2 linked regions of the Homo sapiens genome follow. The protein of the gene in region 1 purifies or fractionates together with the protein of each later gene. This does not show direct contact. Each region holds a gene or a part of one and is shown in the gene's direction. Other genes may lie near its edges.

Region 1 (3,749 bases):
TCTGGGCCCTTTATTCTATTCCATTGGTCTATAGTCTGTTTTTATGTCAGTACCGTACTGTTTTGATTACTTTAGCTTTGTAATATAATTTGAAGTCAGGAAGTGTGATGCTTCCAGCTTAGTTCTTTTTGCTCAAGATTGCTTTGGCTATTCAGAATCTTCTGTGGTTTTATATAATTTTAGGATTGTTTTCTCTATTTCTTTAAAAAAAAAGCTCATGGAATTTTGATAGGGATTGCATTGAATCTGTAGACTTCTTTGAGTAGAATGGATATTTTGGCAATATTCATTTTTTCAATCCATGAACATGGGATGTTTTTCCATTTATTTGTGTCTTTTAAAATTTCCTGGCCGGGCGCAGTGGTTCATGCCTGTAATCCCAGCACTTTGGGAGGCCGAGGCAGGTGGATCACAAGGTCAGGAGATCGAGACCATCCTGGCTAACACAGGGAAACCCCGTCTCTACTAAAAACAGAAAAATTAGCCGGGTGTGGTGGCAGGCACCTGTAGTCCCAGCTACTCTGGAGGCTAAGGCAGGAGAATGGCGTGAACCTGGGAGGCAGAGCTTGCAGTGAACCGAGATCGCGCCACTGCACTCCAGCCTGGGAGACAGAGCGAGACTGTCTCAAAAAAAAAAAAAAAAAAAAAGATTTCCTTTATCAATGTTTTATAATTTCCAGTGTACCAGTCTTTTACTTCTTTGTTAAATTTGTAAGAATTTTATTCTTTTTGTTACTTATATTAATGGATTGTTTTCATAATTTCCCTTCTAGATAGCTCTTTGTTGGTGTATAGAAATGCCATTAATTTTTATGTGTTGACTTTGTATCCTGCAAATATACTGAATTTATTTATGAGTTCTAACAGTTTTTTTTTTTTTTTGAGACAGAGTCTCTGTCACCCAGGCTGGAGTGCAGTGGTGCAATCTCAGCCCACTGCAACCTCTGCCTCCTGGGTTCAAGCGATTCTCCTGCTTCAGCCTCCTGAGTAGCTGGGATTACAGGCGTGCACCACCATGCCCGGCTAATTTTTGTATTTTTAGTAGAGATGGGGTTTCACCATGTTGAGCAGGATGGTCTCCATCTCCTGACCTTGTGATCTGCCTGCCTTGGACTCCCAAAGTGCTAGGATTACAGGCATGAGCCACCACGCCCAGCAGTCCTAACAGTTTTTTTTTGTGTGTGTGAGAGTGTGTGTGTGTGTGTGTGTGAGTGTGTGTAGTCTTTAGGATTTTCTTCATATAAGATTATGTTATATGCAAATAGAGATAATTTTACTTTCTTCTTTGTTATTTAGATGCCTTTTCTTTTCTTTTTTTCTTGTCTGATTTCTCTGGCTAGAACTTGTCATGCTATGTTAAATAGCAGTGGTGAGAATGGGCATCCTTGCCTTATTCTTGATCTTAGAGAAAAAGCTTTCAATTTTACCCCATTAAATATGATTTTAGTTGTGGGTTTTTTCATATATGGCCTTTATTGTGTTGTAGTAAGTTCCTTCTATATCGATTTTGTTGAGAGTCTTTTTTTTTCTTTTATCATGAAAAGGCCTTGAATTTTGTCAACTACTTTTTCTGTATCTATTGAGATGATCATGTGGTTTTTGTCTTTCATTCTGTTAATGTAGTGTATCACACTGATGAATCTTCATATTTTGAACCACCCTTGCATCCCAGGGCTAAATACCCCTGGGTGGTGGTGTCTTCACGGATCCTTTTAATATGCTCTGAAATTCAGTTTGCTAGTATTTTATTGAGATTTCTGTATCTATGTTCCTCAGGAACATTGGCCTATAGTTTTCTTTTCTTGTGTTATCTTTTTCCGGCTTTGGTAAAAGAACAATGCTGGCCTCACACAATGAATTTGTACTTGTTCCCTTTTCTATTTTTTGGAAGAGTCTAAGGTTTGGCATTTGTTCTTCTTTGACTGTCTGCTAGAATTTACCAGTAAGCCATCTGATTTCCCAGTAAGCCATCCTGGGCTTTTCTTTGTTGAAAGCTTTTTGATTGCTGATTTTCATTTTCTTCATTTGTTGTTTGTCTGTTCAGGCTTTGTATTTCTTCTTGATTCAGGTCTTTGTAAGTTGTACATTTCTGGGATATTTCCATTTCTTCTAGGTTGTCCACCTTGTTTGCATATAATTGTTCATACTAGCCCCTTCTGATCCCTTTCATTTCTATGCCCTCTGTTGTAAGGTTGTCTTTCTCATTTCTGACTGTATTTATTTGTATCTTCTTCCTTTTCTTAAAAGGTTTGTTGATTTTGTTTATCTTTTCAAAAAACCAACTCTTACTTTCAATGATTTTTTTTCCCATTGTTTTTCAACTCTCTTTTTTAAAAATGTATTTTGCTCTTGGAGTTTTTGCTCTACTTTAAACAGCTTACTAAAGTCATTTTACTATTAACAAATACAAGGCTCTTTCAAAAGCTCCTATAGGGAATACAAAATTTCCCCATCTCCTTATACCAGAAAACAAAGTTATTTACAATTCATCTTAAGTCTGTAAGTATGGATCTTACTATGCCTTATTTATTTTAGGAAGCCGTTAGCACTTATAGTTTCATTTTTTTCTTTTATTTTTAAACAGTTAAAGTAAAAGGTTACTACTGGAATTAAGCTCAACTTAAATACAGATTTTTTTCTTGAGTGAGTGATAAAGCAAATTAGAAACCAAACTGTACAGAAATTGCTTTTAGCAAATGTAGTAATATGACATGTAATTTAAAATGACTTCATGTATCTTTTGTAATAAATTTGTGAAACATGCATGGATCAAGATTAATTTCATTATGCCTCTTACTTAAATTGTCTGCTGTTTTTGTGTGTGTGGGGAAATCTTTTATTTGCAAAAATTTGATTTCTTAGTATCACATTATTTTTATTAGTATTATACTTTTACCAAAGCAAAACTTAATTAGTATCTTATACTTTTATTAATGTTAGTTACATAGAACATTATTCTTTTTACATATTACTTGTTTGTATTATTGCAATCTATTATTTCTGTTTGGGAGCACTAATGATTTGGATCTGAGTAAAGTTAATATTAATTGGTTTACTAATTGGTTACTAATTGCTAGTGATATGATTTCAGAAAGTAAGCAATGATCAGGATCTGAAATATCACATGCCACTCTCATTCTGCCTTATTTTAGATGTGCCATGCTTGCTATTTAGTAGACATGTCTGTTTCTTAGAAAAGGCACAGAGCGATAATTTAAAAATGAAAGTTGGAAAATTTATCTTAAGATGAGTTCTATTTTTTTCTCTTTCCAAGCTTAATGATCTCAAGGGTCTTCTGAAAGAGATTGCTAATAAAATCAAATAAAACTGTATGAACTCTAATGGAGAAAAATCTAATTATAGCAAGGTGAGTCATTCTAATAGCTTTTTACTTTGCTCTGAAGATTTGCATCTTTTAAGACTAATTTAAGATCATGATTTTTTCCTCAGTTATTTTATTTCCATAAATTACCAAATTTGAAAATAATGCATTGTGCAAAAAAAAAAAATACAGAGATAGAGAAAGAACAAGTTGAAGTTCCTCCTCACATTACCTTCCCTACCAATTTTGCTGCCCACACCAGGGATTAGCATTGCTACGAGCAGGGTGTAAGTATCTTGTCCTGTAGGACCTTTTAAAACACTTGCAACCTATGCAGCTATTTTGGCATGAATTGAAACAAGGTCACACTGTTCCAAGTTCTGTTATTTTTTGATCTTCCTTAATTCTGTATCATGAATGTATTTAC
Region 2 (3,749 bases), on another chromosome or scaffold:
GTGGCTCATCTCTGGTTATTGTTATTAGAACTGACTCTTGCATATGTGAAACCAAAGCCTGCCTCTGTTCCACTTAGTGTCCTGGTTCTACCCTTTGGGCCACAAAAAACTACTAGTTCATCCTCCTTCAAGGCCAGGTGTTTCTGCAATAGTGCCCAAATCCCTGGGGGACTTTCCTTTTCTGATGGCTGGACAGTTGTAGTTGCCTCAGAGATTTCCCCATGTAACCCTGTCTCCTTGAGCTTCCCACTCTGCTCATCTCATTTTACCCTCCCCTTCCTAGACACTGCATCTTTGTTAATATAGCCCATGATCACACCCATCCTTTGTAGCGGTGTTCGCTCTGCCTGCAGGTGGGTAGGGAGAGAAAGGAAAATCCAATATAAAATGCATATCTTGCCCCCACTGTGGCCCACAGCCACACTGCCTTTTCCAGACCCTGTCTCAAGCCCCCACTCCAACAAAATGGCCGCAGATGGTCAGGGGTTCTTCCATAAGGATCTGAGCCACAGACAGCGGTAAAGCCGTTACTGTTCCAACAACAGAGATCTAGCAGGCTTTCCCTCCCAGCTGAGAACCCGGGTCCATGCCACAGGGCAGCCTCAGGCTGATGCCTGAACAGAAACACCACCATGCCGGGACCAAGAGCCTGGGTCCCCCAGTGCCCGAGGCAGCCCTAACACACTGTTCAGGCCTAAATACCACCCATGACCTAACGTGGAAGAAGTCAGGTGACAGGTGTGAGAAAGTGTAAAGCAAGTGGCCTCGGCTCAAACCTTCTTTAAAGTAGGGCCGGAATGGCTGAGAAGATGGAGCCGCCCAGGCTGCCCCACAGCAGTAGCAGGTGTTAAACTGTGCTCCTTTCCTGCCGAGGCCTTTTTTTTTTTTTTTTTTTTTTTTTTTTTTAATGAGAGGGAGTCTGAGCTTCCATCAGATTGTCAAAGGATTCAAGACTAAGATTAAGAGCATCCCCCAAAGAGAAGCAGCTGCAGGTTGAGAAGTCCTCGGACCGCCTAATTTCCGCCAGCCCTGGGATTGGTGGCGCCGCCTCTCAGCGCCTCCTTTCCCGGGGAACCTGCAAACCTGGCGCGGCCGAGAGGCGGATTACTGACCCAAATACGGATGGGGATATTGGGGGAGGGGAGCCAGGGCGACAGGGCGGCGGCCCCAGACTGGGAGGGCGGGTCACAGATCCCTCCCAGCCCCCCACTTTCGTAGAGCGTGGGCAGGAGGAACCTCTGGGTTCCGCGGATCAGAAAAACTCCAAAGGCCGGGTTGTGAGTCCCGGGAGGGGAGGTGGAGGGCGGGGGCGGGGAGGGGCGCGGGAGGGGCGGGGGCTTGCTCCGGCCCCGCCCCCTGCGCTCCGGTGCAGGTCGGGCTCCCCCTGGCGGTCCCCGGCCCCGTTCCTCTCCTCGTGCGCCCCCCTCCCGCCGTCCTAGACCCCTGCCTAGCCCAGGTCGGTCTCCGCGGACCCACGGACGGACAGACAGACGGGAGGACGGCCAGCCGCGAGCGCCCGGGCGGCGGGAGGGGGCGGGGAGGCGACGGCCGTGGCGTGAGGAGCAGGAGCAGGTGCAGCGGCGGCGGCGGGCGGGGCCGGGACCCGGCGCGGAGCGGGAGCCGCGGCGCGGGCGGGCGGCAGGGACCGGGAGGCCGCGACTCGGAGTCAGCCCCGCCGGGTCGCGCGCAGGTCCGGGGAGCCGCGGTTGAGCCGGGTGGGGTGGTGACTCCAGAGAACGCAGGATCCCAAGGAGACAGAGAGGACGAGAGCTGGAGGGGGATCCGGAAAGCGGCGGGGGCGCTCCGGGAGGGGTGGAGTAGGACATAGGGGGCGCACCTGGAGGAGAGACGGGGCGGGGGTGGCCAGGACCTGAGCTGGAGCCTGGGAGCCCGAAGGCCAGACAGGTGAGGCGGGAGACCCGGAGGTGGGGGTGAGGTCCGGTTAGTGGGAGAGATCCGGAGGTGTTAAGTTCTGAGCTGGGCTGGGAAGGCAGGCTGGGCGGGGAGAAGGGCTCTTAGCGGGAGGCCCAGGGGTGGTCAGCTGGTGGGGGAAGCTGGGGGAGGACGCAGGGCCAGGTGGAGAGCCGGCAGGGTTGGGGGCTCCCTAGGCGCCAGGCAGGTGGGCTCAAGGGTGAGGCTGTTTTTTTTGTTTTGTTTTTTGTTTTTGAGACGGAGTCTCGCTCTGTCGCCCAGGCTGGAGTGCAGTGGCGTGATCTTGGCTCACTGCAACCTCCGCCTCTCGGGTTCAAGCGATTCTCCTGCCTCAGCTTCCTGAGTAGCTGGGATTACAGGTGCGCACCACCATGCCCGGCTAACTTTTGTATTTTTAGTAGAGATGGGGTTTCACCATGTTGGTCAGGCTGGTCTCGAACTCCTGACCTAGTGATCTGCCCTCCTCAGCCTCCCAACGTACTGGGATTACAGGCGTGAGCCACCGCGCCCGGCCTGAGGCTGGTATTAAGAAGTGAAGTGGGACCCAGGTGGAGGTAAGGAAGAGTCTGGTGGGGAGTTATCTCAGAAGTGAGGCCAGCACAGGCTGAGTGCAGCCCCAGGGTGAGAAGGTGCCCACCGAGAGGACTCTGCAGTGAGGCCCTAGGCCACGTCCGAGGGGTGCCTCCGATGGGGGAAGCCCCTCCCTGGGGGTCACCGGAGCCATGCTGTCCCGCAAGGGCATCATCCCCGAGGAATACGTGCTGACACGCCTGGCAGAGGACCCTGCCAAGCCCAGGTACCGTGCCCGCCAGCGGAGGGCCCGCTTTGTGTCCAAGAAAGGCAACTGCAACGTGGCCCACAAGAACATCCGGGAGCAGGGCCGCTTCCTGCAGGACGTGTTCACCACGCTGGTGGACCTCAAGTGGCCACACACATTGCTCATCTTCACCATGTCCTTCCTGTGCAGCTGGCTGCTCTTCGCCATGGCCTGGTGGCTCATCGCCTTCGCCCACGGTGACCTGGCCCCCAGCGAGGGCACTGCTGAGCCCTGTGTCACCAGCATCCACTCCTTCTCGTCTGCCTTCCTTTTCTCCATTGAGGTCCAAGTGACTATTGGCTTTGGGGGGCGCATGGTGACTGAGGAGTGCCCACTGGCCATCCTGATCCTCATCGTGCAGAACATCGTGGGGCTCATGATCAACGCCATCATGCTTGGCTGCATCTTCATGAAGACTGCCCAAGCCCACCGCAGGGCTGAGACCCTCATCTTCAGCAAGCATGCGGTGATCGCCCTGCGCCACGGCCGCCTCTGCTTCATGCTACGTGTGGGTGACCTCCGCAAGAGCATGATCATCAGCGCCACCATCCACATGCAGGTGGTACGCAAGACCACCAGCCCCGAGGGCGAGGTGGTGCCCCTCCACCAGGTGGACATCCCCATGGAGAACGGCGTGGGTGGCAACAGCATCTTCCTGGTGGCCCCGCTGATCATCTACCATGTCATTGATGCCAACAGCCCACTCTACGACCTGGCACCCAGCGACCTGCACCACCACCAGGACCTCGAGATCATCGTCATCCTGGAAGGCGTGGTGGAAACCACGGGCATCACCACCCAGGCCCGCACCTCCTACCTGGCCGATGAGATCCTGTGGGGCCAGCGCTTTGTGCCCATTGTAGCTGAGGAGGACGGACGTTACTCTGTGGACTACTCCAAGTTTGGCAACACCGTCAAAGTGCCCACACCACTCTGCACGGCCCGCCAGCTTGATGAGGACCACAGCCTACTGGAAGCTCTGACCCTCGCCTCAGCCCGC

The links.
Region 2: the proteins of TRPM8 (region 1) and KCNJ11 purify together in Homo sapiens (affinity purification with mass spectrometry; 2 studies listed by BioGRID and IntAct, with this or other methods). This does not show direct contact.

What each region holds. Positions count from the first base shown.
Region 1 is NC_000002.12:234,011,288-234,015,036, forward strand, and holds part of TRPM8 (transient receptor potential cation channel subfamily M member 8), read left to right. Parts: intron 1-3,274; coding exon 3,275-3,325; 3' UTR 3,326-3,367; intron 3,368-3,749.
Region 2 is NC_000011.10:17,386,997-17,390,745, reverse strand, and holds the start of KCNJ11 (ATP-sensitive inward rectifier potassium channel 11), read left to right. Parts: upstream 1-2,086; 5' UTR 2,087-2,654; coding exon 2,655-3,749. UniProt on the Homo sapiens protein: Inward rectifier potassium channel that forms the pore of ATP-sensitive potassium channels (KATP), regulating potassium permeability as a function of cytoplasmic ATP and ADP concentrations in many different cells.